Linked DNA regions of Homo sapiens: all the other regions are linked to region 1. The links come from fine-mapping of genetic effects on gene expression. A gene starts in region 1. Each other region holds a variant in brackets. All regions are shown on one strand. Distances are from middle to middle. Region 1 holds the start of SNX31 (sorting nexin 31). Region 2 overlaps SNX31 (sorting nexin 31). Region 3 overlaps SNX31 (sorting nexin 31). Region 4 overlaps SNX31 (sorting nexin 31).

Region 1 (8,185 bases):
TGAGTTTGTGCATGTTACACAGAGTTATGTCTGGCCAAGAGTGAGTGCTGCATAGGGTTAGCCAGTCTTGTTACTACATTCAGGACACTGTCCCTCAGATTGCAGGACACTGTCTCCTTTCCTCTGAGCTGCTCTTCCTCTGTTCCATTCTCCACAGATGCGCACACGGCCAGGGGCTCAGCCCTCTGCTCTCTGGTATGAGGCTGACTGTGGCCACAGCATCAGTGTAGGTTTTCCTTATGGCTTCCATAACAAAGTGCCTCAAACTGGGTGGCTTACGACCACAGAAATGAATTCTCTCATAGTTCTGGAGGCTGGAAGTCTGAAATCAAAGTGTCGGCAGAGCCGTGCTCTCTCTGAAAGCTCTAGGGCTGACTCCTTCCTTGTTCTCCTGAGCTTCTGGTGGCCTGAGGCGCTTCTTGGCTTCTGGAAGCACAACTCCAGCTCTGCCTCGTCTTCATGTGGCCTTCTCCTCTGTGTCTCTGTATTTCCTTTTCTGTGCCTTATAAGGATACGCTAATTGGATGTGGAGCTGCCCTAATCCAGTAGGATCTCATCTTGAGCCTTACCTTATGATGTCTGCCAAGACCCTATTTCCAAATCAGGACACTATTCAACCAACTACAGTCAGTCTCTGAGTAGGTGTTCTGGACCAGAAAATCCTCCAGGAACCATGGACATTTTAGAACCACTGGTGTGATTTTGTAGTTCTCCTATGTATCGTATAATTTTATATATTTCCTCAAATTCCAAAGACCCTAGAGCACCCAACACAGACCAATACAAGTAAAGACAGAGAAAGATACACATCCCAAGCCATCCAGCCTTACCTTTCTGACTCACTCGTCTGAACCTCAAGAGAGTGAGGAGGACACAGGCAGATGAAGAAAAATACACAGGATGCGAAGACTTAACTCTGCATGCCCAACCTTCCAGCTCCTATCCCTTTCTGTGTTTGCTCAAAATAGGTGTCCACCAACCAGGAATCTCTTCCATGTTTGCTCAAGACCCTTTTTTTCATATGGCCACAGCCTTGACTGTTGGGGTGATGTGCGCAACACCTGGGCTATAAGAAAAGATGCAGCAAAGGAACCCATAATGCACATTGGCTGGGCCCCTCTGGTGTAGAGCACCAGACATTATGATCCATCTCACTGGCTCCCTCGTGGACCCTACTGCCCTCCCCATCCCAGAGGCCCAAGGGTGTGAAGGACTCAGGAGACGTGGAAAGTTCCAGAACAAGACAGAGCCATACCTCATTATCCATACCTCCAAAAGAGTGTGGGTACCAGATATCAAAGAGCCAAAAAGATTACACACCAAGTAGATGAGAGGCAACATGCAAATAATGCCTAAGGCTTTCAAAGTAGGAAATAGTGCATTTGTTCTGTAATACTATGGGCCATATTACAGAAATGGCCTCTTTTTAAAATCTGTAAATAAGCTTAGGCTCCATAAGGTTAGGGGACTGAGGCTGCCATGTCTAACAGCCTCACTGCAGCGCCTGGCTCATAAGAAGCACTCAATGAATACTCCCTGAATGAAGAAATGTTAAGCTTTTATTGAGTGCTGACCATGCACCAGGCACAGAGTAAATTAAAATACCCCTTGGAAACAATATAGGATTGATTCAGAAATTGAGCATCATAAATGTTTATTTAAAACTCCATCAAGAATTAAAAACCTGTGGGCCGGGCGCGGTGGCTCACACCTGTAATCCCACGACTTTGGGAGGCCGAGGCGGGTAGATCATGAGGTCAGGAGATCGAGACCATCCTGGCTAACACGGTGAAACCCCGTCTCTACTAAAAATACAAAAAATTAGCCGGGCATTGTGGCGTGTGCCTGTAATCCCAGCTACTCGGGAGGCCGAGGCAGGAGAATGGCATGAACCCGGGAGGTGGAGCTTGCAGTGAGCCGAGCTCACACCACTGCACTCCGGCCTGGGTGACTGAGCAAGACACTGTTTCAAAAAAAAAAAGAATTAAAAACTTGTAAAGGGTGCGCTTGTCAAGTCGTGGTACAGATTTCCCCAGGCACCCCTGAAAAGCAGCTTCACAGAGCACAGGCTCTAGAGGCAGATCACTTACTTCACATCCCCCATCTACTATTCACAAATTCTGCAATTCAGAGCAAGTTTCTTCATTGCCCTATGCTTCAGTTTCCCCATCTGTGAAATGAGAATAATATCAGTACCTACTTCAGGCAATTGTGAGAATTAAATGACTTCATTCATGTAAAGTGTTCAGAGCAGCGCCTCCAATCGCTGCTACCATTATTATACTTCTCTCTTGGTCATGTTTGAAGATTGTCTTGCACAGTGTGGAGTACACAGAAGGAGCTCAATAATGTTCACTGACTGAATGACTGAATAAGAGCTGACTGGCTACAGCAGAGGTCAGGGATGCAAGAGGACGGTGACTTGCACAGAGGCCTGTCCTGTTCCAGTTCAACTCCAGGGGGGCACTTAGTGAAAGGAAGGAAATGGCCCTGTTTGGACATGCCATGGGGTGAAACCAGGGTCCAGGCCATTCACTGGAGCAGGAAAGTTCCAGGAAAGCTGGGGCCACTTCTGGGTCTGACCAAAATGCTCTGCTTTGCCCTGAAGATCAGACCAGATTCCAGAGCTGCCGTGATCAGGCTTTGTCCCAAGAGGCACTCAGGAATACCCCTGGCCTTGGTATAGGGAGGCCTTCCAGATCAGAGATGGCCTATGGGCAGGGGAAATACCCTAAGGCCCATCTATCCTGGACTGAAAATTCCCTTGAAGTAAGTAGAGTTATTAACATGATTTCATAAGAAGGAACTGCAGCTTAAAGAGTGCACTAATTTCACACTTGTAATCTCAGCACTTTGGGAGGCCGAGGTGGACAGATCACCTGAGGTCAAGAGTTTGAGACCAGCCTGACCAACATGGAGAAACCCTGTCTCTACTAAAAATACAAAATTAGCCGGGTGTGGTGGCGTATGCCTGTAATCCCAGCTACTCAGGAGGCTGAGGCAGGAAAATCACTTGAACCCGGGAGGCAGAGGTTGTGGTGAGCTGAGATCGCACCATTGCACTCCAGCCTGGGCAACCAGAGCAAAACTCTGTCTCAAAACAAAAAAAAAAAAAACAAAAAAACACAAAAAACACTAATTTGCCCAAGGCCTCTCAACTAGAAGCCACTAAGCTGGGACATGAATTCCTGTTGCCATTCTCTTAACTACTATATGATACTGCTTCCCTCACTTAATGGCCCTAGCCTCAATTTCCTTTTCTATAAGACCAGAACTGTCAATGGCTCCTAGCCCACAGGTGTTTGTGAAAATTAAATGGCATAGCATATGTCAGGTCCTGGCACCCAGCAAGCACGCAGGAGGCACCGGTGTTTGGCAGGCGTCGCTTCTCCTTCCTTAGTCTCGGATTCCCGTTTCAGGCATGCAGCTCTTACCCCAGGGATGACTGGCATTTGAAAGGACTTTCAATGATCCTGATGAAATCCTGCAGTAAACGACTCAGACCCATGAAAAAAATGCCCTGTGAGCTTGGACAAGTTCCTCCACCCCCTGGGCCTGTTTTGTCCGTGGTAGGATGTCCTCTGTTTACCTGGAAGAGTTACGGGTAGATTAAAGGAGAGAGGGAAGAACGGAGCCAGCCCAGGCTTGCTACAGAACAGGCTGGTGAGAGCTGCAGCATCTCTGTGCTCTGTGATCACGGCAAGGTGGGAGGAATTCTAGTTTCATTTAACTAAAATAGAGAATTAGGAAGATTATTTTCCACAGCAACTAAAAATGAGAGACTGTTGAAAGAACTTGCACTGGGTAGTCCAGAGAACCAAGTGTTTATGTGAATGCACCTGTCTAAAAATGAGGGCTTCTCAGGGATCAAGAGAAACCCAAGCCATTTCCATTTGGGGGGGGCTTCTGGTATTTTAAGGGGAAAAAACAAGATTGAAAGAATAATACGAAAGCAAGGTTGCATATATTGCTGCATGTCTTGTGTTACATTTAACAAATGTCAGTACAAAAAAACTGACCAAACATAACTCTGCTAATCATAAGGCAGTTACTAGATCTATGTAATTACAGAAATCTTAATTAGTGCACTGCAGGCAGCGTTGGCAGGTAATGGGACACAAACTGTTTTCAAGCCCCTCACGGGCCTTCTTGGAGAAAATGCCAACAGTGGCCGATGTCCGGGGTGGGGGTGGCCGTGGATGCGCCCCAGCCCCAGGCGCCACCTATCCCGGGACCAGAGCGGCGGGGCTGGATGGGGCGGGGACTGGGAGGCGGCGCGGCCCGGCCCCGGCCCCACCTGTAGATGTCCCCGGCCGGCGAGAGCGGGCGCCGGGGTTCGCTCTGAGTCGCGTGGCAGGCCGCGCTGCGTCCACCGCTGCCGAGTTCAGAGCCGCGCACCGCCCGCCGCCGCAGGTCGGGTTCCCAGCGCTACTCCCAAGACACCGCTCAGCCATGAAGATGCATTTCTGTATCCCGGTGTCCCAGCAGCGGTCCGACGCGCTGGGGGGCCGCTACGTGGTGCGCCCAGGGCTGGGGTCAGGGTGGGCAGGGAGGGGGCCGGTGGCAATGCTCACTTATCCCTCGGCTCACCAGGGACGGGGTGTCTGTGTGTTTGCAGCTGTACTCCGTGCACCTGGACGGGTTCCTCTTCTGCAGGGTGCGCTACAGCCAGCTGCACGGTTGGAACGAACAGGTGAGCAGATTGGAGGCGGGTACGAGCCCATCCACTGAGACAGGTGGAGAAAGCTGTCCCCAAAGCGCTCTGTTCCTCTGACTCTGGCAAGACACTGGGCCTTTCACGGCCTCGGGCTTCCTATTGTGAAACAGGGTCCTGGTAAGGATGAACTGAATTGCTTGGCATACAGTTGGATGAATGCATGCTGCGGCTCCTGGTCGCCTACAGCTGTGAGATGAGGGAACCGGGCGCAGGTGATTCTTCCAAGCCCCTCGCAGTTGCAGCCGGGTGATCCCCGCTAGCGCCGCCTGGCAGGGCGCTGGGGCTATGCTGGGCCCCATTTCAGTGCCCGCTGTTCCCCAGGACAATGCTTCCCTCCAAAATTTGGAAACTGGGTCTAGATCAAGGCCTAGAGTCTTTGGAGTCTTGTACATGGGTATTTAATCTCCTTTGTCTCGAGAGTTTCTTAAGTTTGCCCCCTTTAAAAAGGTGTGTCTCTAGTTTTGTTTTTGAATGGCCATGAGGCTTCAAGTACTGGCAGGCTGGGAACCAGGGAACATGACTTACCAAGCTAGGATAGTTTCTCACCCTGCTGTCTTGACAGTATTTTCTCTGGGAGGCAGACTGATTTATTAGTCTGCTCTAATGGGTTTCATTGTTCTTATAAGGAGGTGTTATAAGTCTTCAAAATGGATTAGAGAAGTAAATGAAAGTTTAGAAATAAACTTTACACTCCTCCTCCACTCCCCCATGAATAGTGATTTTTGTTTTTTTGTTTTAGATTTTAGGTTATAAACAGCACATACCTAACATTAAAAACAAAAGTATAGGCCAGGCACCGTGGCTCATGCTTGTAATCCCAATACTTTGGGAGACTGAGGCAGGAGGATTACTTGAGTCCCAGAGTTTGAGACCAGCCTGGGCAACATAGCCGAGACCTTGTCTCTATTAAAAAAAAAAAAAAAAAAAGTGTAGAGAAAACTGAAAAAACTTTCCCAGAGGTAACAGCTGTTTTTGTTTGTTTGCTTGTTTTGAGAGAGTTTTTTCAGACAGTCTCTGGGTTTCTAGTGAGTTAGATACACCATGTTTCATTTAACCATCTTCTGTTGACCGACAGCTTAGTTTGTTTTTTCTGCTATTAAATTGTCACTGTAGCAAGCCTTCTTGCTCATACATCACAGTGCATTGGAAAAGTCCATTTTCAAGGTGTGATTAAGTATCTTTGGAGTCAACCAAGAACAGTTGTAATGTGGTTACTAGTTAATTTGAGTGGTCATCTTTGTATTACTAGTGCTGTGACCCAGTAGGTCCTTAGGAACGATTGTCAAATGATTGAATGAAGAATGGCATAGATTCAGACTTCTGGAAGATAAGAAGCTACTTGTGACTGAAACACATGGGGAATTGTGAGGACTGCAGAGGCAGGGATCTCAAAGGAAGAGAAAGGATGAGTGTCTTAGGCATTGGCAGGGGGAGGCAGGGTATCCTCTCCTACCCTCCTCTGTTTTCCTGCAGCTTGAGGTGGGGAAGGGGCAGGAGCAGAGCAGGAGGCAGCAAGAGAGCCTGTGACTGATCAACTGCGTCCTGGCTGATCACCTCACCTCTCCTCTGATCTTCAATTTTCTCATCAGAAATAATAAGCAAATGGGTCCTTATGGATGTCAGCCTCACAGTGTGCTTGTGAAGATTAGGGGCCAGCTGCTTGCAGAGCCTGGTACATAATATATGCTCAGCAAACATTTGTGGACTCAAGAGGCTTCAAGCACTCCTGAATCTGGCCCTCCTTACCCAATAGACTTGGGAAAATGCTTATTTTCAGGAAAACTCAGATGAACCAAATCCTAGCAGGTCCAGAAGCAGAGGCATAGAGTGAGTAAATTTTATTCTTGATCTTCTATTTGGTAAGACATGAAGTAGAAATTGTCTGTTATTTACTATTGGGGCCTTTAAATATTGAATTACCATGGCTCAGTGCCCTCAGTAGGACATACAATAGATTTTAATAAAATAGATTTTAATAAATATTTCATATTTATCCCAGATTTCTCAAAATAGTAAAATGGAAATTTCTTTGTCTAGTTTCCAACTTCCATATATCGCATATGAATATTTATCATTTTCCCCCTTTCTATACAAACTACTACATTTTTAAAGAAACTATTTAGATCTTAGATGGCTATTGGTATTTATAATCAATCTGAAACAATAACAAGTAGTTACTGTGTGCTGAGTTTGGTACCAAACACTTTACCTGTAATAGCTTAATTTTTATAATAGCCTTATGAGCTAGCATTAGAATTAGTCCAATTTAACAGGTGAAGCAGCTGAGGCACAATTTTCCTAAAGTCATATTGTTAATGTTGGAGGCAGGACTTGATTTCTAGAACCTGCTCTGACCTATTACATTAATGTGATTTCTTTCTAACGTTGATAAAATAAATCGTATCAGTAAAACAATGAGTCAAATGACTGAGTCCTAAACTAACATACTTTTACTGTATTTTGGAATCATGTAATGTAATAAAATTCCCCAACTTTATGGGTTCAGTGTAATGAATTTTGGTAAATGTATACAATTACCACCACCATGATCGAGGTTAAAATTTTTTTTTGCCTCACTCTAAAAGTCCCCTTGTCCTTGAAGGAAACCAAAATATTTTATCCCAAAATGTACTACTATGACATATTTCAAGATGGCTGTGTAGAAAGCTGGAAATATCAGAATAGCTGAAAAGCTGCCTTTTGTGGAGGAGATTTGCACCTGTAGAGAGAATCTGTATTGATGCAGCCAGGCTTTCTCTGAAGTCCTCTCTTGTTCAGATTTAGGAAAGAATCACAGAGAGTCTGACACCTTTAAAGGTCTGAAACAAATGTTTACCAACTGTTCTTTCTGAGAGCTGCTACCTGTGGGTTTCCTCTGTATACTAAGACCACTTTTGCTTGCCGGGTCTCTCCTCTTCTTCCCGTGACCTGTCTTGCCACCATAACCTGATTTGCCACCATAACCTGTTTTTGACCATGCCGCTTTTTTCTGTAATCTCAAGATGGTATAAAACCATCAACTATTTGGCCATTTCTTTGAGATCTTTTATTTTGTAAGACTCCCGCGCATGTTAGTAAATTTGTATGCCTTTCCTCCTATGAATCTGCCTTTTGTCAGGTGGTTTTTCAGTGAAGCTTCAGAGGATGAAGGGGAAGTTTACCCTTGGCCCCGATAGTCTTTTTGCTCTCAATCCCCTTCATTCAGCCCTGACCCCAGGCCTCCAACATCTACTCTCTGTCATGCGAGTTCCAGACACAGGATTTTGTTCCAGCAAGTCCCCAGTAAGGTCAGCAGTTCAATCATCATCATCATTCTCATTTTATAGGTAAAGAGTCTGAGGCCGGGCATGGTGATTCACACCTGCAATCCCAGCACTCTGGGAGGCCAAGGTGGGTGGACTGCCTGAGCTCGGGAGTTCAAGACCAGCCTGGGCAACATGGCAAAACCCTGTCTCTACCAAAAATACA
Region 2 (8,000 bases), 37 kb after region 1:
CCACAGACTGCATGTGTCTGGGGCCAGGCAGGTAGCTCTGGGGTACAGCTGCAGGATCAGATATAGAACAGGAGAGAGCACCTGCCTTCCCCAAAGACATCATCATTGACTTCTTTTTTTACACACTGGGCTTGCTGACCAAACTAGACATGCCTGCAGCTGAAGCCAGTGGTGGTGGTGATAGTTTGGGGTCTCCTATCTTCTGGGTTTAGGATGAGTCCTGGATTCAAATTACAGTCATGTGCCACATAATAATGACGTTTCGGTCAACATTGGACTGCATATACAATGGTGGTCCCATAAGTTTATGATACAATATTTTACTGTACTTTCTCTATGTCTAGATATGTTTTGGCCAGGCACTGTGGCTCACGCCTGTAATCCCAGCACTTTGGGAGGCCAAGGTGGGCGGATCACGAGGTCAGGAGATCGAGACCATTCTGGCTAACACAGTGAGACCACATCTCTACTGAAAAATACAAAAAAAAAATTAGCCGGGCGTGGTGGCGGGTGCCTGTAGTCCCAGCTACTCAGGAGGCTGAGGCAGGAGAATGGCGTGAACCCGGGAGGCGGAGCTTGCAGTGAGCCGAGATCGCGCCACTGCACTCCAGCCTGGGCGACAGAGCAAGACTCCGTCTCCAAAAATAATAATAATAATAACAATAGATATGTTTAGATACACCAATACTTACCAGCATGTTACAGTTGCCTAGAGTATTTAGTACAGTAACATGCCTACTATACTACTATAAACCTGGGCTAACAGGCTTGTAGCCTGGGAACAGCGGGCCATACCGTCTAGCCTAGGTGTATAGCAGGCAATACCATTTAGATTTGTGTAAGTTCACTTCGCAGTGTTCACACAACAACAAAATCGCCTAACGATGCATTTCTCAGAATGTATTCCTGTCATTAAGCAAAACACAGCTGCACAGTGTTGCTGTGTAAGGGCTGTGTGAATTTGGGTAAGTTACTTTACAGACAATGTCTAAGTAAATAATTATAGAAATAGTTCACGTTCCCGAGACAATGGCAGTTGTGTTTATTTATCATTATTGGTATTGGTATTGATCTTGATATTGGAGGGAGTGCTGAATACGTACTGAGTAGGGCAGTATCTCCAGGGTTCTGTGGTACCATCTGTTTTGTCCATTTCCCTTGAAACTAATAGCATACATTTGATGAAGTACATTTGCAGTCAGAAAAATGTGCTTCCTCTCTTCCAATCATGTTGGCTTGTGAGAAATTCAGACCCAAGACGTTGACATCATCAGATCAGGTAAGTTTAACTGGAGGTTCTACCCTAGAAGTGGTAGTTTCCATAACAGGTGAAGTGGTCACTTGGTCAGCCACAGGTGTGAATTTCCTTCCAGGAGCTGGGAAATTCTCTAGCTTGCATAAAACCATAATTTAAGTTTTATAATTAAAAATCGCCTTCTGCATCTTCTCCAGCACACTTGCTGCCATTCTCACTTTGCTTCCCCAGGTTTGCCTCACCCACAGCCTGCCTTTTACTTTTCAATGGTCTCTTTTTTGGTTGTTGTTTTGAAATGGAGTTTCACTCTTGTTGCCTAGGCTGGAATGCAATGGTACAATCTTGGCTCACTGCAACCTCTGCCTCCCAGGTTCAAGCGATTCTCCTTCCTCAGCTCCTGAGTAGCTGGGATTACAAGCACGTGCCACCATACCCAGCTAATTTTTGTATTTTTTTTTAAGTAGAGATGGGGTTTCACTATGTTGGCCAGGCTGGTTTTGAACTCCTGACCTTAGGTGATCAACCCGCCTCAGCCTTCCAAAGTGCTGGGATTACAGGCATGAGCCACCGTGCCGGGCCTCAATGGCCTCTTTAAGGGCCAGCAGCAAGCTAAAATCTAGGACTACTGTGGTGCTAGTGATGGCGTTCGTGTTTTGAATCATCATTAACATTTGCTAAGAGGAAAAATATTATTACGTATTTTTTTGCTGATGCTCACTCCTCTCAAAAGAAGGTGTTTATATTTATGTCTTTATGAATGCGAAAGGCTTCTTCATTCTCCTTTTGCCCCCATGCCTTTCCTCTGTCTGCCTTGGCATGTAAGCTTGTTGTTTTCCCTGAATTAGACAGAAAAGAAGGAAATCTAACTTGAGTGGACCTGGGTCAGGTTTACTCTGGGAAAGATGTCTTTACTATGCTGTTACCTACCACACACTTACCCACTGTGTTTGGCTTTTGGGTGTTTTGCAGCCCAAAACATGGGGGAAAGAGAGAGACAGAAAGAAGGGGAAGGGAATTGCTTTGAAAGTGGTGAAACTATTCCTCAGCTGCTCTTTATTTTCAAAGCTATGCTGAGAACACCCACTCATACCAGCCACCTAATCAGACTGCTTCCTGGGGGTAATTTATGTATCTCTGACAAGAGAAGGCCCCCTGTGAGCCTGGTATTTGTACAACTGCCACCTAGAGAACTGGGAGTCGTGGGTAAAGCAGCTCTGGAGGGCAGTGCTTGGAGGCCTCTCCTTGCGTGGTACAGAGGTGATTTAGTGAGTTAAGACCAGGAGTATAAAGAAATTACTCGAGAGCCCAGTGTTAAATAGGGGCTGGGCTGGGCAGATGGCAGGGAGGAAGCCTGTGGTCGTGTAGAATTTTCTGCTAAGGGAGCGTGAGTAGATGTCCAATGCTGTGAGGTGACACCCTGGTAGGCTGATGGTAAAAATGAAGCCACTGGCGTTGAAATGAAAGCTGTTTGATATAAGTCAAAGAGGAATGTGAAGGAAGGCAACCTGTGCCTGGCATCTGAGGTTTTCATTTTGCAAACATCCTAGTAAATTACAGTTGACCATCGCAGGAAACATCAAGGCGAAGCAGGCCTGGCGTGTCAAAGGTGGGCAGTAGCGCATGCACGTTTGTATGCCAGCCAAGCGGCGGGGAGTGATCCTTTTCCAAATAGCTGGTAATGCAGCCCACAGGAAGGTAAACTAGTGTGCAGGTTCCAGGGACAGACATCACAGAAGGACAGATGTTCATGGAACATGGCTGCTGCCCTCCAGGGGAAAATAAAGACCAAGACAATCCGGGAGTGAGTCCACATCTGAGATGGGATGACCAACCTCAACTTGGGGCCAGCCTCTGTCCATTGTGGTGGGGCTGATTTTTATTTTCTTTATTCTAATTTTTTTGTGTTTTAAAATTTTCTAAGATGGATACCATTTTTTGATTCCAAAAAGCTTTCTTTGAGTGTTCACTAACCCATGACAGCATTTTTTATTGATGTGTACCGGCCATTTCCAAGTCTGCATGTCACAGTTAGGATGCATGGTGGGCACACCTAACTTTTTCCCTTTCTGCTTGTTTCTGGTTAAAGGTGGTGTCACACAAAATTGGACTGTGTCGAGAGCTCTTGGGCTACTTCGGCCTCTTTCTCATTCGGTTTGGCAAGGAGGGCAAGCTCTCTGGTAAGAAGGAAGGAACAAATGAATCAGCTAGGAGATGGGGTGGACAGGTGTGAGCAGGGGCTCATAGGAGTCACAGCTGAGGGGCTGGCCACCCACTGGGCTGTGATCCCTACCACTGTTCTCAGTCACTGGGTTAAGGGTTTAGGGAATAGGAGGTTGCGTCCTTGTTAGGGGAGAGTGGGGGCAAACCGCTCATACCTTGGGTGGTCCAGTAACTGCACTTGTGTACCCCCAGCCCTAATCCTGACCCCCTCCCCTTTACCGCAGGCCCGGCCTGACCACTGACCACTCGCCTGCACCGTTTCCTGTGAATGGAGTGCTAGACTCCAGGGGTCAGGACGCCCCACCACAGCATCATTTCTCCTTGTTAAGGAATATTTGTGGATGGTATCAATGAGTTATTAGATTCTTTTTTCAAGTGTAATGAGATAGTGTAAGAAGACAGTCTGATTCTCCTATCTTTTGTTTTCTCTACAGTATGTTTCTAGATATTACAAGTTTTTTTTTTTTGTAAAATGGTATCAGTTATATTAAAGTAGTTTATAAATGTCCTCAAGAAGCCAGGGGAGGTGGTTTTGAGTTGGAAGTTAAGGGGCTTG[T/C]GTAGAGGGTTGGCTGCTAGGCCCTGCGGTGAGCTGCGAAGGCGCTGGATGTCTCCGGATCTATTTTTTCATCTATATCACAGTGTAAAACACCCCCCACTCAAGGGGCTGTTTTTTTTTGAGGATCAAATGATATTTATTTTTTGAATGAACTTCAGAAAGTTAAAATTACGTGTAAATACAGAGGATATTCTTACTGTGATTTTATTATTTCCAATAATAAGGTTTTATTTTCTCATTTGAAAGCTGCTATATATAAGCTGTCTGTGCTGTTTCAACCAGTAAGACCGGCTTTCTCCTTTCTCTAGTTGTGAAAAAATTGGCTGACTTTGAACTCCCTTATGTTAGTCTTGGAAGTTCTGAGGTGGAAAACTGTAAGGTTGGACTCCGAAAGTGGTAAGTAGGTTCTGAAAGTGACAGAGGCGTTTGACGACACTTCGCCATTGCCCATCAGGACTTACCAGAGTCCCGTCACATCCTGCTCATAGCCTGACAGCTGGAGACCAAGAACTTAGAGAAGGCTCTGAGAAAAGCAATGAAGGCCAGGTGCTGTGGCTTATGCCTATAATCCCAGTACCTTGGGAGACCAAGGCAAGATGATTGCTGGAGCCCAGGAGTTCAAGATCAGCCTGGGCAACATAGCAAGACCTCATCTCCACTAAAAATCAAAAAAATTAGCCAGATGTGGTGTTGTGCATCTGTGGTCCAGCTATTCAGGAGGCTGAGGCAGGAGACACACTTAAGCCCAGAAGATCGAGGCTGCAGTGAGCCAAGATTACACCACTGCACTGCAACCTGGGCAACAGTGCAAGACCCTGTCTCAAAAAGAAAAGAAAAGCAATGAAAATGAGAGAGGGTGAAATAAACTGGTTTCTGAATATTTGTCCTAAAGAATAGGATGTTGAGGGTGACTATCAGTAGTCTCAGGTAAATACTCAGGGCGGGGTGGGGTATGAAAATGAGGAGGGTAGCCATCTTTCTGCATCTCTACTGATAGGCGAACAAGAAAGTAAGACTTGAAAACCAGGGGCGGGGCCAGGGGACATGGATTAAAGCAGGTAATGGTGGGAAATGGCTGGCCTTGGGTTTGCTTTGCAATGCATCACTGGCTGCATTAATGGAGGGACTTTGTTGATGATTACAACCAGATCTGATTTATCCGTAGAAGTGTGGTATTCCCTGAAGGTGAAGGGTGGATTCAGCCAGGTTGCAGTGAATTTGAACTCTAAGTACTGGGCTTACACATGCCTAAAGGATGTGTACAGGGCCATCCATATTCCTAGATAGGTAGGACACAAGTATCCCTCTGCAGAAAATACTGTCATTTCCTCCAGTAACACAGGAGCCTGTGGAGAACAAAATATTATAGAAAATAGCGCTGAGCAGCAGGACCTTATGCACCCCCAGTCCTATAACCTGCAGCTCCCAGTGTTTATTACCGTGGCTGCAGGGGATTGCTCCTTAGGCTCGCTCTCTCCCAGCCCATTTATTCTGTTATCTGAGTACAGAAGTTTTAAAGAAAGGTATTTTGAAATCTAAGAATTCCCTTGACCTTGTGATGCCTTGCTCTAGAGCTCCAGTTTGTGGCTTTGAATTGTGGAAGGATATTCCCAGCAAGGCAGTTCATATACTGCTGTTCAGAAGTATCCTGAGGAATGGTCCAGATCTTGAGATGTGAAACCCTGAGAAGGGGAGAAGAACTCAGTTCCATCCAATGGTTTAGAGAACAGCTGTTCTGGAAGCTGCTTGCTGTAGTGAATGGCTGAGCACAGTTGTTCCTGGAATTACAGTATGTGAATCTAAGTTGCGCCTTGCTCAGGTCTTAGCTGCGTAAACCTAGCCAAGTCGTTCAAGCTCTCTAAGCCTCAGTTTCTTTATCTGTAAAATGGGAATAATAAAAATAGTTTATTGGATTATTATAAGGGTTATTGCAAGAGTTATGTAAAATAGTCCCATATGCTCAGTAAGTTTTGGTCATGTTTGTGACTGTTATATTGATGATGATGGTGATTATAGGAAGCAAAAAAAAAAAAAAAATCTTTGGGGCTTAGATTTTCACTCATGTGCGCTTCATAAAACCTGAGATCAAAGGAGAGATGATGATTCTGTTTCTTACCTTGAAGCTTGAATTAGAAATTAGGCATTGCCTATGTCTTTTTTAAATACGTAAACTCTAGATGATACGTGCAAGAGAAAACGTCTACCCCAAATTATTAGCCAGCATCTCAGATCTAGGCAGATTGCCTCTGTTGATGGGAACTGGGAAGAAAGGAGGTTCCACTTCTATTGTCAGAGCTGAGGATCAGGTCTCTGGAGGGGAGATTCTGGCATAGGCTCCTGCAGGTGCCTTGCCCTCTTTCCAGAGGGAAGTCTTGCCGCATGGGAGCTGGAAGGCTAGCTCCAAAAGCTGAGTGATTCCCAGCAGGTGAAGCCTCAGTGAGGCCTAAGTGGCGTCTTAAGGACTTCTCTGTCCTTAAGGAGAGATGCCTGGGTGCATCTCTCCAATGATGATGATATGGCTTCCTCCAGGCCACAGGGTACCTGTGCTGGCCTGTGGGAGCCCCAGTCTGGGATGGGTCTATTCTCTGCACACAGGGGCCTCTGGGATGTGTGGGTGCATAGTTACCTGGAATGTAAGTAGGGATGCTTCAGTTACTTCTCCCCACCCCAGAATGAAGTTGACCTTCAAGCACCATATTTATCCCTTTCCTGGTCTAAGCCAACCCCATTGGTCTATTCACCCTATTCTGAGCATAGCAACTCTGCTTGCCTCTGCCTTCTGGTTGGTAGAGATCAGCCATAGGTACCCTTTCCTGACAGTTTCAGTCCCTTCTTAACATGCTACTGTGCTTCTACAGTCATTAATTTCAGTTCCTCGTGATTCTGGATCTGACAGGCAGACACGGAGCCCCTGCTATTTGCAAATCACTCTGTCAAGATTCAGAGGGGCAACTCTGGATAGGCCCCTGGCCTTGGGGTTCTTCACAGATGGTGTCAAGAAAACTTAATCAGAGTGGCAATTGGAATAAACTCAGGGTGCAGAGGAAGCACAGTGGACAGGCGGCTAATACAGCCTTGGGGAGTAGGGACCAGAGGAGGGGGCACTGCATAAGGCTTGCAAAGAAAGGCCAATCAGTCAGGGGAGGAGACTGGTGAGGGCCTTGGTCTTCCAGGCAGGGAGAGAGGAGAGAAAACATGGTTGGAATGTAGCGTTGGTGGTGGGGTTGGTGAGAGATGGAACTGGAAATGAAAGTGGGGGTGGTCCCCGGAAGGGCCTTGAAAGTGAGTAGAATAAATATCTAACTCCAGGAACAATGAGAGTCTGAAAAGTTTCACAGGAAAGACCACTCTGGTTAGAATGTGGAGCATCAGATTAAGGGCACATGGCTGAGACAGAAAGCCTGGAAAGGAGGCTCCCAGAGCAGCTCAGGCAAGAGATGAGGGTGGCCCTGCTGCAGGGTGGTGAATATGGGGGTAGGTCTGTGTGGGGCAGTTGACTATGCCAGGTATTGTGCGGTGGAGAAAGGGAATCCGCATCTTGGTGGCCAAGAGTGAGGCTGAATGTGAACAGGGATGCAGACCATTCCCCTAAAGCTTTATTTTTGTGCCTCTTTACTCTTAGAGCCCTCCAGGCAAGAGCTTACGGTGTAAAGAAATTAGGAAACGAAAGAGGTGGAGGGGCAGAGTGAAAGCTGGGCAAGTGGAGGTGTGGCTTTGTTGGAAAAGGGGGCCCTGGTTCATAGGGTAGAGGGCCACCACTTTCCAAAGCACTTGCCAGGTGTGCCCATGGGCCATGTCACAGGAATGAATTTCACACTCCTGAATTTTGCAGGTATATGGCTCCATCCCTCGACTCCGTGCTGATGGACTGCAGGGTGGCGGTAGATTTGCTCTACATGCAGGTGAGGGTCACCAAGAGCTCAGACAGCACCGTAGATCATAGGCCATGTTGGCTTGGAGCCACTAAAC
Region 3 (8,203 bases), 78 kb after region 1:
GGAATCACCTGGGGAGCTCTAAAAACTAATGCTTGAGCCCCACCCTCAGAAATTTGGATTTAATTGGTCTGAGGGGCCTGGGCAATGGAATTTTTAAAAGCTCCCCAAGTGGTCCTATTATACAACCAGAATTGGAACCATTATCCTAGAACACCAGTTCTCAGTGTGTGGTCCCTGGACCAACAGCATCTGTATCACGTGGATCTTATTAGAAATTCAAATTCTCAGGCCCCAAACCTACTGGATCAGCAGCTCTGGGGGAAGGCCGCAGCAATCTCTTTAACACGCCCACCAGACAAATCTGATGCATGTTCAAGTTTGAGAGCCACTGTCCTAGGACAACAGATAACACTCAGCACAACTGTGATCAGTTCAGTTGTCCTCTCGGATGAGTGGTAACTCTAATACAGGCCAACCTATCTCATGCTGTGAGTAGGACCAGCAGGTCGGAAAGAGACCTAGTGTCCAACTATATTGAGTTTTAATTTATTTTGCAAACTGTTGTATAGACCTTATCCTGAGCCATGAACTGCTATAATTACTTTTTATGTATAACTCGTTTAATCCCAATAAACAACCAAAGCACTGTTATTATCCTTGGCTTACTGCACAGAGAACTGAAACACAGAAAGGTTAAGTCACTTGCTCAAGGTCACACAGTCAGTTAATATCAGAGCCAGTATTTGAACCCAAGCAGTCTTTATTTGTTGTTTAACAAATAAAATTAGTTTGTTGCTTTAACCACTTGGCAGTGAGGCCCCTCTATCAAAACAAATCCCTCGTAGAAAAAAAGTTGTAGCCCATCTGCCCACTGAGGGGCTCCACATTTTTTTTTTCACTTTCCACTTTCCATAACCGTGTCTTTGAGATTTCATAAGTACTGAAGGCAAATTACTCTTTAAAGATTTGCGGTAACCCTAACCTCTAAAATGTTTTAAAATAAGCATAACACTTTTTTTTTCTAATGAGACAGAGTCTCGCTCCCTTGCCCAGGCTGGAGTGCGGTGGTGCCATCTCGGCTCATTGCAACCTCCACCTCCCAGGTTCAAGCGATCCTCCTGCCTCAGCCTCCTGAGTAGCTGGGATTACAGGTGTGCACCACCACATCCGGCTAGTTTTTGTAGTTTTGGTAGAGATGGGGTTTCACCATGCTGGCCAGGCTGGTCTCGTACTCCTGGCCTCAAGTGATCCACCACCTCAGCCTCCCAACGTGCTGGGATTACAGGCGTGAGCCACTGTACACGGCCTCTTCTTTTTTTTTTTTTTTTTAGACGGAGTCTCACTCTGTTGCCAGGCTGAAGTGCAGTGGCACAATCTTGGCTCACTGAAACCTCTGCCTCCAGGGTTCAAGTGATTCCCCTGCCTCAGCCTCCCGAATAGCTCGGACCACAGGCGCCAGCCACCATGCCTAGCTAATTTTTTTGTATTTTATTAGAGATGGGGTTTCACCACGTTGGCCAGGGTGGTCTTGATCTCCTGAACTCGTGATCTGCCCGCCTTGGCCTCCCAAAGTGTTGGGATTACAGGCATGAGCCACTGCGCCTGGCCGCCCAGCCTCTTTTTTAAAGTTTGTATTTGTGTGGAATGTGCACTAAAGATTTTGGGCAAAGTTAAAAATTGAAAGTCGCATGGCTTTAAGAGGGGAAAGAGGCAAGACAGGTAGAGTTAAATGTTAACCTGGGTGATATCCCAGGGCCCTGAAAGATGCAGAGGACACATAAAACCAGTAGGCGGTGCTCTTCTCAGTCCTAACGAGTGTATTTACACTCACCCCAAAATAAAGCTTCTACAGAATAAAACTGTTTAAAATAACCATTGCTTATACAAATGTAAGCTTTCTGTTGCCCTTTCAATACTGTTTTAACCTCTGTGACTTTGTTATTGTTATGGAAATGATTTCCTTTCATTTACATTTCTGACCTCTCTGTTTACTTCACAGCAGAAAGACTATTCTAGTTTTCTATCAAGAAAAAGCAAGATTAAGATAGCTAAAGATGACTGCGTTTTTGGGAACATAAAGGAAGAAGATCTCTGAAGAAAGCTCTCATATTTTAAAATATCCTTGGAGGCTATCTCAAGACAGTGAAAGAACTTGGGGATTCAGGTGGGCTACCTACCATCAGTGGAGGAAATTTGACCTCTTCCCATTTTTTTGGCATTAACATGGACTGTATTCATCAAGGTATTATACCACAGCACTCTATGGAAATCTCAAGATTAGAAAAAAAAAAAGAACCAAGTTATAGAGTTAGTTTTTATTTTATTTTTGCACTTCGTCATGACAGTATAGAGTTTGTTTTTAATGTCTCATAAATGACAAGTGGCAAATTCAAATCAACTCATATAAAACTCATTCTATTTTTTCTCTAAAATAGATCTTTATATGGCTTCATGAAGTCTTTTATGTGTTTTGAATTTACATAAATGAAAGTCTCATAAAATATCATAAAGATATTTTGGATCGATTTCTAAAGATGTGACTCTTCAACGGAGGAGAATAGGGCTCTGAGAAATGGAATCACTGAAAAAGAAACCTGGGTTCTCTGATCTATCCACACAGAACTAGAGCAAGGAGGTGATGAAATACTGATCTCTTTCCTCACATAAGTCTGAGCCTACCAATATGGATGTACTCAAAGTGAAACGCTGCCCTGTTCTCTGCTTGACCATTGTTATAATTTTATTCTGTCCTTAGAGTACTGAAGGCAGTTCAATAATCAACATGCTATTTGGAATGTTTTAATTTGGAAAGCAATAAGGCTCTGCACCTGATATCAGATACCTTATAATTCTCTTAGCTTTAAAAATATGTATACTTTCTCACAAGGTTTTTCCTTATCTAGCTTCATTTCTCTCATGGTAATTAATGTAATTATGTATAGAATTAAGACCACAATAAGGGAGATGATCAGAGGAATCTGTATAGTGTAATTAGAAAAAGTACAATATTCTAATGTTCTAACTGGGTTGTATACCTAATTATATAATAAATACAAAATAATTCCAGTGAATATAAAATTTGTTGATTAAAATTCTGTGAATAATCTTTTTGAAATATAGAATCTATTAAAAATTCTATAATATTTATAAACATATGCCTATAGCTGTAACTCCTAGTACTGGAAGTTTTTATATTTAAATTTTAGGCTGTAGTAGGATATTTTTGCAGAGACTCACAAACATCTCAAATCATCCTAAGTGAATGTGTTAATGGACTAGGATCCTCTTCAGATTAAAATGGAAGTTTATCTACTATTTTGCCAATTTAAGAGTAGTCAAGCTCTATCTCTTTTTAATAGCAAACACCTACACAATGGAAGAGGCTATCAGAGAAAACAAGAATGCAACAAATTGTATTTGGAGTAAGAAGACACATAAATTGAACCATATATAATTGCTGTCTTTGTAGGCCAAAAATAGTTTTATGTTGACAATTTCATGTTTCAACTTGATATGTAAGAGAGTAATCCCAGACAACATGTGGTTGGTGTCAAAAGTGTGCTATGTGGGCTGGGCGTGGTGGCTTACTCCTGTAACCCCAGCACTTTGGGAGGCCAAGGCGGGACGATCACTTGAGCCCAGTAGTTCAAGACCAGCTTGGGTAACATAGTGAGACCCAATATCTATTAAACAACAACAACAACAGCGTAGTGTGGACCTGCATGTCAAAGGACGTCGGGGCCATCAGGAAAGCCCCAAGGGGAAGAGGGACTTTGAAGAAAGAGTAGAGCCATGTGAGCAAAGGTGGGGCACCCTAGAGAAAGGGAAGGATAGTTACAGATGGGAGATTAAATGTGGCATTGTAGAAAAATGAGTAAACTTGTTCTGTGCTAGCGAAGTTTTAGGTTAAGGGAGTAGTTAGGAGATAAAGCTAAGAAGTGGGATGGATCAGAAATATATGTATATCCTAATGCAGCATCTCTACAGTATATGTAGAGCAGTTTGTCCTTTGAGGATGCACAAAAACAGAAGCATTTTATTTAATAGTTTTTTTTCCAAACATTGAGATTATCATCAGTGTCAGAATATGAGAAGAAAAATACAATTGATGACATGCATTCCACAGTATATAAATATAACATGAAGAATAAAGGAACTAGGGTAGCACATGATAAAACAAAAATTGAAACAAAATTCAAAACTTATTTTGTAAAATGATACATTTCTTAGTAGTTATGTGAGAGAAGAAGGAGCTATTAGCCTTTTTGGGGGATTACTGGGCCTAGTTTTATCTAGGAATTTAGGAGTTTAAATCACTTCTGGATCAAAACACTTGATCATTGCGTAAAAAGTCAGAACTTCAGCTGCCAGAGTGAGCTCCCCAGCTGCAGGTGCTGGGAGAAGATGGCGAGTGAGACCCCCTCATCACTCCAGGAGGTGAGGACCTCACTCTGCGGTAGTCCCTGCCACCGGCACAGCC[A/G]CCCCAGCACTGGAGAAGCCATCAGCTGGTGCGTGGCTTTATCAGGTAGGTGACTGTTGATATCCTTCAGTAACTGCTAATCCTAAGGGGTGTGACATGGCTTTGCCAATTACCAGCCTATGCCTTTGTCCACTCCTCATATCCCTGCAAAAATGGTCCCCAGGCAACCACATTTTCTCCTGCAATGTCTATATCCACCATCACTTCTTTCCACTTCTAGACATTCATATGAGATTTTACTGCTGTTTATACTCCTAAAATAACTGGCATAAACAATTTGCCCACAGGCAAACACAACTGAGTTTGAAAATTTCACACAAATCATAATGAGAATAACTATTGGACAGAGGTGATTAAATTGTGGTCAGGCCCCACCGAGCCCCTTTGGGCCCTATGGAGGGAAGCATGTGCAGGCTTTGATTGAAGAGCTGACAGCAGAGAAACATGCTACAGGGAGTGGCAGTGCCCAGAAGAGTTCCCCAATAAAATGGAAATTGTTTCTAGGGGATCATGCCACCTGGGGAATGCAAGAAGGAGATATTCATGAGCAGGGAGCCTCTTTACCCCCAGGACTGACACAGACTGTAAGGTGCTGCTGGTTTCTATAGACACTTGGACAGTGCACTGTGAACAGCTCTTGATTGACCAATAAGGAGCTGCTCTGTTTACAGAAAGCATTTCCAAAGTGAATGGACAACATCCTCCTGTTTGGAAGGCTGCTGCTTTGATCAAAGAAGGTAAAAACAGATTAGCTGAGGGGGCTGAACTGCATGCTGTCTTTCTTACAGTAATGGAAGAACTGAACAGTAGTAGAAGCCTCCATGTTTGGGTTTTTACTGATTCGTGAGCAGTGACCAATGGCCTGGCCATACACTCAGGCAAGAGGACTATGGAAATCTGATCTATTAAAGGAATGTCCATATGGTGCATAGCCCTATAGAAATTTGAGGGGTGCATTAAAGGAGAATAAGTCAATGCCCATCAGAAGAACTTCCTCCCCAGGCTGAGAAGGTGACTGGAATAGACAAGCAGTTATCTCCGTGTCTGCCCTTGTGGTCATCACCTGGTCCATGAAGTGAGTGGATATAGGAATACTGCAGCAGTGCAGAGATGGGATGAATCTAAACATGTTCCTTTTGCATCTTTGCAGGCACAGAATGCCAATAAGAACTGTCCTGTTTGTCAGCAAGAGAGACAGAAACTTCCAGTGGCTATGGGGCAGATTGCCTGGTGGGAAGGCCCTGACCAGAGCTGGCAAGTGAAACTGATGCTGGTAGCCCTGGGGGGGCTACACATTGGTCTTGACAGGAATTAGACACTGACTGTGGACTGGGCTTTGCTTCCTTAGTGGAAGATGAAAATGCTCAGAGCACCATAAAAAAACAAGAACTGAAGACTTGCATGGATTTGTACAGAAAACTGTCATTTCTTCAGACCAAGGAACAATGTATAAGCCATAATATCCAACAATGGGCAGAGAGATACCTCCTTAGAGTAATAGTTTAGTAATAGAGAAGTAGAAGGAGTATAAAACATTGGTTGTCTAGAACAGGGAGATAAATTATGAAGGGCTGGCTTACACACCTTCACAGGTAGGTGCTAACACTCAACATGAATGGGACTAAAGGAGTGTCCCCACTAGATTTTTGTGTTTTCTTTGTTTGTTTTTTTTTTTTTTTTTTTGGTTGATTTGGGAAGAGGGATTGGGGAGGATGCTGATATGACTATGCAATTCTTGCCAAGGGAGGAGTACACTAGTATAATGACTATAATTTTCTCTCTCTTCCCCAAACAACCTCAATTTTTTTTTCTCTCCTCTACCTGATGCAATGATCCTAGGACCAGGGCTACAACTACAAGTGCTGGAAGCAAGGATGATTTCTAAGCAAGAAGCTGTAACTACATTTTTAAACTTTGTATCTGAATTCCTAAGGGGATAATGGGGGCGGGTTGTGCCTTCACCCCATCTAAGAAATTGGGATCAAGAGTGAATGCAGCTATGTTCTCTGGTGGCAAAACTAGCTCACTAGTTCTGCACCTGTGTAACCTTACCCTATCTGAATGGCGGTGGATTGAGGAGGAGCTACTTGCTAGACTAGTATTGCTGCCCACAATCTAGACCAGCACAGTGGCAATTCTAATGTCCCTTCCAAAGGTGAAAAAGTTTGAGTATTAATGGAGAGAAGGAGAAAAAGTAGCTGAGAGTAAAGAAAAAAAAAAGGTTATTAATGGAAGGAAATTCAATATTACATTAATACCTCAAAAGAGTCTCAGAGCAAAAGATGACATGATGTCTCAGCTCAGTTATTCCAGATGCCTCAAAGGGTGAGGCTAGGTGCCAAGACCACTCCTGTTTTTGGCACCTGATAAGATTGAGAGGAAACCTGCAAACCTGAGTGACTTTACTCTGGGAGACATTCATACACAATGATGGACTGGACTAATTATTAATGACTGTGTGGGATTCTAGTAATAAGGCGATATCTTTTGAATTGTATGTCCTTTTGTAAAAATTATTTTTCTGTAGAGACAAGGTCTTGCTATGTTGCCTAGGCTGGTCTCAAACTCCTGGTCTCAAGTGATCCTACTACCTCTGCCTCCGAAAGTGCTGGAATTACAGGTGTAAGCCACCATGCCTGGCCTGTATATTCTTTTGATGAAAGGGATCTGTGTTTGAAAACCAGGGGGTGGCCTGATAGTTTAGAGTAAACGTTTAGTAATAGAGAAGTAGAACAACTAATTAGAACATCGGTTGTCTAGAATGGGGAGATAAAATGAAGGGCTGGTTTACATGCCTTCACAAGTATGTGTTAACACTCAACATGAAGGGACTAAAGGACTGTCCCCATCAGTGGCTGGTGGTATTATGATACATATATATTGGTTTTCATCCATGGTTCCTGGCTCATAACTCTAAAATCCCATATATATATATATAAGCTAACATCCTCCCCAGAACTAGGTCTCAGTTTACATCAGCGTGTGGTCAGCATACAGCTTGCACACATCCCCACATGGACATTTAAGCAAATTTTACATTAAACATTTCAGTTAGAAATTACCTTAAGATTACCCTCAAAGTAAAATTGAGAAGAGCTTGGTGTTCCTAATTTGTGGAAAAAACAAGTAGGTGCCAACCTTTGGTGGTAAAACAGTGGCAAAATGATTCTAAAATACCAAACAAAGGAAAACTACAAAAGAAAACTCAGCAATAGAGGCAAGTCTACTTTCTCAGCTGCTGTTTTAGCTGTCCCTTGTCCTGCAGCGTGTATTCAGTGGCCCATGAGGGGAGTGGCTTGCGTGGACGCAGGACTGTGGAAGACGGGAGAGTTCTCTCCTTCCTGTCACCCATAGTCCAAGAAAAATGTCAAAAAAGTAGGTATGCTTTTCTGTCACACACAAAAAGACATGCTGAGTTAACTTAAAAAAAGTATGGCTAACCAACGATTTCTTAGAAGATGGCTTTTAAGCTTTGTAATTGTACTTTCTCCCCACTTTATTGAGGTATAATTACATTTTGCTCATAAGTTACTTTATAATAGCTAACAGTTGTATTCTTATGAAGTAAGTTGTCTGTACCACAATTTTAAGAAAAATTAGACAGCTACAGAAAAGTACATGATGTCATTGGTGGGTTTGGGTCTTTGGTCTAGCCCTAGCCCATGTATTTTTCTGTAGGGCAAAGTCTTTAGCTAACCAAATAGCTTTACTTGTGTGATAGCTTGAAAGAGGTTAGACATTCTGTTGATTTAAAGGTGCTGACCTTAGTGATTTTGCACTGCT
Region 4 (8,000 bases), 22 kb after region 1:
TTTGACTATATGCCCCATTGCAGAAAATAATGCAAGGGCTTCCCCTCCTCCACTCCGGGAATTACCCCTCAGAAAAGACAGAATGCTTTTTATAAATAGTTTCTCATGTTGCAGGGACTTTCTCTCTTCGTTTATTTTGGAAAACATGATGTCTTTTGGGAAAGGCACAGCCTGCAATGAAGTCAGTGATAGTTTTGAATGCTGGTAGAGGATGTTTGATAAAATTAGTAAAACAGGCCGGGTGTGGTGGCGCACTCCTGTAATCCCAAAAACTTGAGAGACTGAGGCAGGAGAATTGCTTGAACCTGGGAGGTGGAGGTTGCAGTGAGGTGAAATCACGCCATTGCACCCCAGCCTGGGTGACAGAGCAAGACTCCATCTCAAAAAAAAAAAAAAAAAAGTAAAACAGCAATGAAAACAGAAGGAAGAAAGAAATTTGGCAGCATTTAGTAAGTATGTAAGTGTAGCTGAAGCGCAGGATATAGGAGAGGATCTGTGGCAAGTGGGGGTAAACCAGGAGGAACCAGGCTGGGCCATACCTTGTGGGTTTGCAGTTCTCATGGGGGTGTGTCTGCCCCATCTGCTCTGCCCATATCTCCTGGCTATTTGTGTCAGGAGCTTTAAAACTAAGGGTAAAAATATTTTTGTTAATTATAGAAGAATGAAATATTTTAAATCTCTCTGACTGCCTTATCATTGCTTTTTTTTGGTAACATCTCGAGAACTCCTATCATTCAAAGGGGTGCTCTCGGCCGGGTGCTGTGGCTCACACCTGTAATCCCAGCATTTTGGGAGGCCAAGGCAGGCAGATCACCTGAGGTTGGGCATTTGAGACCAGCCTGGCCAACATGGTGAAACCCCATCTCTACTAAAAATACAAAAATTAGCCGGGCATGGTGGTGAGTGCCTGTAATCCCAGCTACTTCAGAGGCTGAGGCAAGAGAATCGTCTTAACCCAGGAGACGGACATTGCAGTGAGCCGAGCTCACGCCACTACACTCCAGCCTGGGCGACTGGGCGAGACTCCAAAGAGGTGCTCTCAGTTGATGTTTCTTGGTTGAATTAAATTTTCAAATTACCCTGTGTCTTGCTAGGCTGGGAGTCTAGATGCAGGTTTTAAGATCTTTCTGATTCTTCATATAAACTTCATTATCATCCTGGTAGGGCAGCAAAATGGATGTTCAGTAGTATGGGTTTGTATAAATAAAGTGAGATGCCTGGGAACACTGTCACCCTGGATGGGTGTCATGGGTTCCTGTTGTTAAGGCTGCCTATAGGAGGCAAGCTTTGGGGGTTTTCCTGTATTTGAGAGGTTTCAACATTTATCACTTCAGGGAGGAGACAGAGCACTGGCAAGGCATGGAGGGATCTCTGGAGGACATAGCAATTAATAGGCAGGGCCCAGCCCAGCCCATGCTAACCTGGCTCACCGTCCATGTTTTTCAGTAACCATGGACCCAAACGTGTTGAGAAGTGATGTCTTCGTTGAGTTTTTAAAACTGGCGCAGCTGGTAAGCTTGCTCTTCTTTAATGGGGCCATCATTCCTCTGCAGGACACTCTTCATGAACCAAGTGTGCAGGTACACACACATGTGTGCACTGGTCACAGCCCCACAGAGCCTGGACTTGGACAAAATATATTCATTTCAAGTCAATTGGGGGATGGTTCCTATTTTGTTCTTTTGGAGGTTTAGATTTTAGATGGAAAATGAAGTGTGTCACTTGACCTTTGGCTCATTTTATTAAGTAGATCCCTTTTTCTGTAGCCTAAGAATCATACATCTCAAAACAGGACATGAAGAAGAGGACCTTCAAGTACAGTACAAGAACTACAGCCTTTATCATTAAGGGTTCCCATAACATGTCTGTGACCCTGCTTCTGTAGCTGAGATTTCCAAATGGGCCACAGTGAAGACATCAGGAAAGCAGGCCATGCTGGCTATTCCTTGTATATTCTCTACTCCTACCTTTATTGTAAATGAATCATGGAGAAAATTCAACATGAACAGAATGACATACAGCAACTCCCTTTCCTTTGTTGGTCTAAAGAGTCATGGGTCACTTGCTCCCTAGGCTGAAACTGCTAAGTACGTTTGTTTAGCACAACACTCATTCTAATGACACATAAGGAAACATTGTTATGCCTGTATGTATGAGCTTGGCTGGAAAAGCTCTGAAAGAATTTAAGTTCCGCAGTAATATGATACTAGTTAACTGGATCCTTAGCCAGGGGAGGAATGATCAGATTTGCAAAAATGAGAACACATTTCATTCATTCATTTACTCATTTATAAAATAAAATCCCATTGGGTTCTCACAACAAATCTCATGTAAACAGGGGTTCAAATGTGTTGGAATATTTACTGGCCCAGTCAACCTGAGAAATGGCCCTAGAGCCTTCTGTTCTGTAGTGGTTCATATTTTCACAATTTCTTGATGGTTTATATATACACACACTTTCCTATTCTTTGAAAAGTTTGCTGTGGAAGTGGTGATGATAGTAAAATTCAAATAGCCAAGCGTATACAATGAAAAGTAACTTTTCTTCCCTTATGATCCCCCTCCTCAGTGACAACTGTTGTGTATAGTCTAATAGTTTATAGTGCTCTTTTGCTACACATTTCTGCACATATATAAGCATGCATATATATACATATATATGTACATGCACACATATATATACACATACATGCACACACACAATCATGTGTCACTTAAAAATGTGGATTCGTTCTGATAAATGCATCATTAGGCGATTTTGTCATTGTGTGAACACCACAAACCTAGATGGTAGAGCCTACTGCCCCTAGGCTACAAACCTGTATACTATGTTACTGTACTGCATACTGTAGACAATTGAAACACCTTGGTATTTGTGTATCTAAACATAGAAAAGGCACAGTAAAAATATGGTACTATCATTTTGTGGGACTACTGCCATATGTGCAGTTTGCTGTTGACCAAAATGTCATTAAGGGGTACATGACTACACACACACACACACACACACACACACACACACACCCATTTTATTTTACAAACAAGCGCACACTCAACACATTTTTTCAACTTGCTTTTTTAAAAAAATTTTATTATTATTATACTTTAAGTTTTAGGGTACATGTGCACAATATGCAGGTTTGTTACATATGTAGACATGTGCCATGTTGGTGTGCTGCACCCATTAACTCGTCATTTAGCATTAGGTATATATCCTAATGCTATCCCTCCCCCTTCCCCCCACCCCACAACAGTCCCCAGTGTGTGATGTTCCCCTTCCTGTGTCCATGTGTTCTCATTGTTCAATTCCCACCTATGAGTGAGAACATGCGGTGTTTGTTTTTTTGTCCTTGCGATAGTTTGCTGAGAATGATGGTTTCCAGCTTCATCCATGTCCCTACAAAGGATATGATCTCATCATTTTTTATGGCTGCATAGTATTCCATGGTATATATGTGCCACATTTTCTTAATCCAGTCTATCATTGTTGGACATTTGGGTTGGTTCCAAGTCTTTGCTATTATGAATAGTGCCGCAATAAACATATGTGTGTGTGTGTCTTTA[T/G]AGCAGCATGATTTATAATCCTTTGGGTATATACCCAGTAATGGGATGGCTGGGTCAAATGATATTTCTAGTTCTAGATCCCTGAGGAATCGCCACACTGACTCCCACAATGGTTGAACTAGTTTACAGTCCCACCAACAGTGTAAAAGTGTTCCTATTTTTCCACATCCCCTCCAGCACCTGTTGTTTCCTGACTTTTTAATGATTGCCATTCTAACTGGTGTGAAATGGTATCTCTTTGTGGTTTTGATTTGCATTTCTCTGATGGCCAGTGATGATGAGCATTTTTTCATGTGTTTTTTGGCTGCATAAATGTCTTCTTTTGAGAAGTGTCTGTTCATATCCTTTGCCCACTTTTTGATGGAGTTGTTTGTTTTTTTCTTGTAAATTTGTTTGAGTTCATTGTAGATTCTGGATATTAGCCCTTGCTTTTTAATGCCCGGGTGCTGTGGCTCACGTCTGTAATCCCAGCACTTTGGGAGGCTGAGGTGGGCGGATCACCTGAGGTCAGGAGTTTGAGACCAGCCTGGCCAATGTGGTGAAACCCCATCTCTGCAAAAATAAAAATTTAGCCGGTCGTGGTGGTGCATGCCTGCAATCCCAGCTACTTGGGAGGCTGAGGCAGAATTGCTTGAACCCAGGAGGTGGAGGTTACAGTGAGCTGAGATCATGCCACTGCAATCCAGACTAGGTGAAAGAGCAAGACTCTGTCTCGAAAAAAAAATTTTTTTAAATTGACGTTGCTCTTTTAGACCTATGTCTTGCAGATCATTCTATATCTGCACATGTAATCGTAAGTTGACTTTAGTTCAGTCGTCTTTTTGGGGTGCATTCTGGGTTTTGCTTTCCATCATTCATGGGATCATTCAATGTTGTTAAGCTTTGTTTTGTATATCTCTGTTTGTTTGTTTGTTTGTTTTTGAGATGGAGTTTTGCTCTTGTTGCCCAGGCTACAGTGCAATGGCATGATCTCGGCTCACCACAACTTCCACCTCCCAGTTTCAAGTGATTCTATTGCCTCAGCCTCCCAAGTAGCTGGGATTAAAGGCATGTGCCACCACGCCTGGCTAATTTTTGTATTTTTAGTAGAGACAGGATTTTACCATGTTGGTCAGGCTGGTCTTGAACTCCTGACCTTGTGATCTTCCCGCCTCAGCCTCCCAAAGTGCTGGGATTACAGACGTGAGCCACTGCGCCCAGCCAGTTTTGTGTATCTTATTTTCCTGATAATTTGAAAGGTTTTATACCTGATTTCATTTCCTTAATATTTTGCCTTTGTGACTTCATACAAAAGCCTTATACCTCTAGCTGTGTTTTTCAGTGCCTCTTTTTACTTTTTCTAACACAATTTTCACTTTTGTAATGGCTTTATTTTCCTCTTCCATTTCTTCCGTGAACTTTACCAGCTCACTTTTATATCCTTTTGTTATCTTATTTCTTGAGGCTTTTATCTATTCTTTGAGGTCTTCATTCAGAAACACCTTCTTTTTATTTTCATCTGCTTAATGATGTAATTCTTTTGGTATATGTTATTTGCCTTTCATTGGTCATGTTTCTTTCCTCCTTTCTTGCAGGATTTTTGCATAGATCCCTTGCCAGTTATCTTTAAGTCATCAATCAACTTTGAAACAGGCTGCTGTTGTGAGCTAGCTGTTTGCTGACACATAGTACTGGGGAGGGGGCCTGAGTTGAATTCATCGAATCTGTTGTATTTCCAGTTCTTGTTTCTTGTTTCTGAGCACTTTCTTATGAACATGCTACCCTAAGGCCTAATCAGACTGTCTAGCAGCAAAGCTTTAAACCCCAGCTCCTCATATCATGATCTAGCCTTCTAAATATTTTGATTGACTAAGATCAGCAGCCCCCGACCTGGTCTAGGGGTTAAGAGTTCAGGCTAAGTAGTGAGATGGCCTCAGTTCAAATTTTGGCTGCCCTACTTTTGATTTATATGACTTGGGTCAATTTACTTAGGCTTTTTGTACCTCAGTTTCCCCATCTGTAAAATGGGGAGAAGAGCTCCTGTCTCTTGGGGTTGCTTTGAGGATTAAATTAACTGATACCCTTAAAGCATATCATCCGGCACAATGTTAATAGATATGAGGTAGTCACTACCTTCACCTCCTGGGTTCAAGCGATTCTCCTGTCTCAGCCTCCTGAGTTGCTGGGACTACAGGCGCATGCCACCACACCCAGTTAATTTTTGTATTTTAGTAGAGATGGGGTTTCTCCATGTTGGTCAGGCTGGTCTTGAACTCCTGACCTCAGGTGATCTACCCATCTCGGCCTCCCAAACTGCTGGGATTATAGGTGTGAGCTACCATGCCTGGCCAAGATATAGGTTTTAAAAAGCAAAATCTTAATGCCAGTCCCTTTTCTTTCCCCAGCCATGCTGAGAGATTGCTTTTTGCAAAGATGGAGTGTCTGTACATCTCTTCAGCATCCCCTGCCACTAGGTGGTGTCCAGTGGGGCCCGGAGTAGCGCTCTCAGACAGGCTGAGCACCATGTGATTAACTGCTTTGAGGCAGCTTATGCGTTGCTTGAGTTCTGCAGCACTTTGAGACCTCTGATTCCCTCCTTCCTGACCAGGTTCAATTTTCAACGCACTTGGCAGCCCTTCTGAAAACCTCAGGCTCAGGGCTATTTGTAAGTTTCTTCAAGGATGCTTTCCTTTTCATTGTTTTCTGTTTGCTTCTAAAGAGAGGGCAGGACAGAGGTAACAGTCACTTCCCAGAACCTTAACACTTTTCAAAATATGTGCTCTTTTTGAGTTGAATTGAGTTGAATTTAACAACTGGAGAAATCTTTTAATTTTTCAAGGAGATCGGTGTGCTTTGTTGCTATTCTGCTCTGAGGCAGAGGAATGTCTAATAGCCATGGTGCGCATCCAAGAAAATCCATATGTGGACTCACCAGGCTCTAAACCTCCATCACATGCAATGATGGGCCGCTGTCATTTCTCTACAAGGGAAATGGAAAACATTCTTAAGAATGTTCCTCTGCCTCAGAGCAGAATAGCAACAAAGCACGTATTTTAAAACATTAAGGCAGCCCATGGTATTGGAGGATTTTGAGGTTTCTTTAAAATGAATGTATTTTTGTTAGTTTTCTAGTATGAATTGCATTTTTTCATTCCTGCTGCATTATAGATAAGTATGGCAGCTGGGCCAAACGTGGTGGCTCACACCTGTAATCCCAGAACTTTGGGGGGCTGAGGTGGGAGAATTACTTGAGGCCAGGAGTTGAAGACCAGCCTGGGCAACATAGTGAGACTCTGTCTCTACAAAAAAATAATAATAAGAGATATTTAGATGGGGGTAGTGGCACGTGTCTATAGCCCCCGCTACTCTGGAGGCTGAGGCAGGAGGATTGCTTGAGCCCAGAGCTTTGAGGCTACGGTGAGCTATGATCAGCCCACTGTACTCCAGCCTGGGAAACAGAGCAAGACCCTGACTTTAAAAAAAAAGAAAAAGGATAGCAGCTCATTTAATGTTTTGTTTTTTTATACAAGCCAATTCTACCAGGTTGACTTTTCCCCCCAGCTGGTTTTTGTATTGCGTTTACATTTCATTAATTTTGTGAATTATACATTAAAACATTCTAGTAAAATTCAAATATCACAAATAGAGCCAAATTGTTGTTTGATTTCCACTCTAAACTTGTTTGATCTGTTTTGTGCTTGCTTTGGTCTCATCACACCAAGATCTTTTGATGCCATCAATTCTCCTCTTTATTATATTGCTCTAAAATGTTTGTTTACTTACCAAAGCAAAATGTGCTTATAGTTAGAAAAATGAAATAGACATCATGGATGGAATAAAAGTTAAAAATCTAAAAATAGCAGTGAAATAGTGATTAAAAGGATTATAACACTCCCCTGTCCTCCAGAGGCAATGACTTTCAAATCTTACAGCTTTCTCTTCAGATACTTAAAAATATGGAGGTTAATTATATACATATATGACTATCTCTCATTCTTCGTTTTATTTTTTTCTAGATACAGGATCTCACTATGTTGCCCAGGACTCCATCTCCTGGGCTCAAGTGATCCTTCCTCTTCAGCTTCCCCAGGAGCTGGGATTACAGGTATATGCCATAGCACCCAGCTATTATTCTTCAATTTTTAGACCCTATCCACTGACTGTGATGGATGTGAGGATTTCAGCTTTCTTGTGTCACTTCTATTCTTCCTTTCTCCCCTAACTTTAATTTTAAAAAATTAAGTCCTGAGTCAACACCTTCCTCTTTCCTCCCCGCATCCCCCCACCTCCCCCCCAACTGGAGTTAAAACTGAATCACTTAACAGAAAAAAAAATGCTTAGTTGTCTCAAAACATATGACTAAACTCCTTCCGTACCTATAGCAGCCCTGAAGACAGAATTTTCCCCATAGTCAAGCACATCAGTTTCTTTCCCTTCGAGATGATCTACCCAAAGTC

Evidence for each region. PIP is the estimated chance that this variant, and not a neighbour inherited with it, causes the effect.
Region 2: its variant is the best candidate, but not a certain one, in a credible set for the expression of SNX31 in left ventricle (GTEx, PIP 0.61).
Region 3: its variant is the best candidate, but not a certain one, in a credible set for the expression of SNX31 in skeletal muscle (GTEx, PIP 0.60).
Region 4: its variant is the best candidate, but not a certain one, in a credible set for the expression of SNX31 in subcutaneous fat (GTEx, PIP 0.76).

The regions. Positions count from the first base shown.
Region 1 is chr8:100,645,782-100,653,966 of GRCh38, reverse strand. SNX31 (sorting nexin 31) reads left to right here and starts at 4,302. Exons shown (of 14, transcript NM_152628.4): 1 at 4,302-4,518; 2 at 4,619-4,693. The coding sequence starts at 4,453.
Region 2 is chr8:100,608,427-100,616,426 of GRCh38, reverse strand. SNX31 (sorting nexin 31) reads left to right here. Exons shown (of 14, transcript NM_152628.4): 6 at 3,342-3,432; 7 at 4,340-4,427; 8 at 7,864-7,933. Among named protein-coding and RNA genes, the nearest start is that of SNX31, 37 kb to the left of the region's middle. The variant T/C (reference allele first, on the strand shown) is at 4,032.
Region 3 is chr8:100,567,697-100,575,899 of GRCh38, reverse strand. It overlaps SNX31 (sorting nexin 31), which reads left to right. Exons shown (of 14, transcript NM_152628.4): 14 at 1,940-3,011. The coding sequence ends at 2,035. Among named protein-coding and RNA genes, the nearest start is that of ANKRD46, 12 kb to the right of the region's middle. The variant A/G (reference allele first, on the strand shown) is at 4,421.
Region 4 is chr8:100,623,838-100,631,837 of GRCh38, reverse strand. It overlaps SNX31 (sorting nexin 31), which reads left to right. Exons shown (of 14, transcript NM_152628.4): 4 at 1,447-1,511. Among named protein-coding and RNA genes, the nearest start is that of SNX31, 22 kb to the left of the region's middle. The variant T/G (reference allele first, on the strand shown) is at 3,565.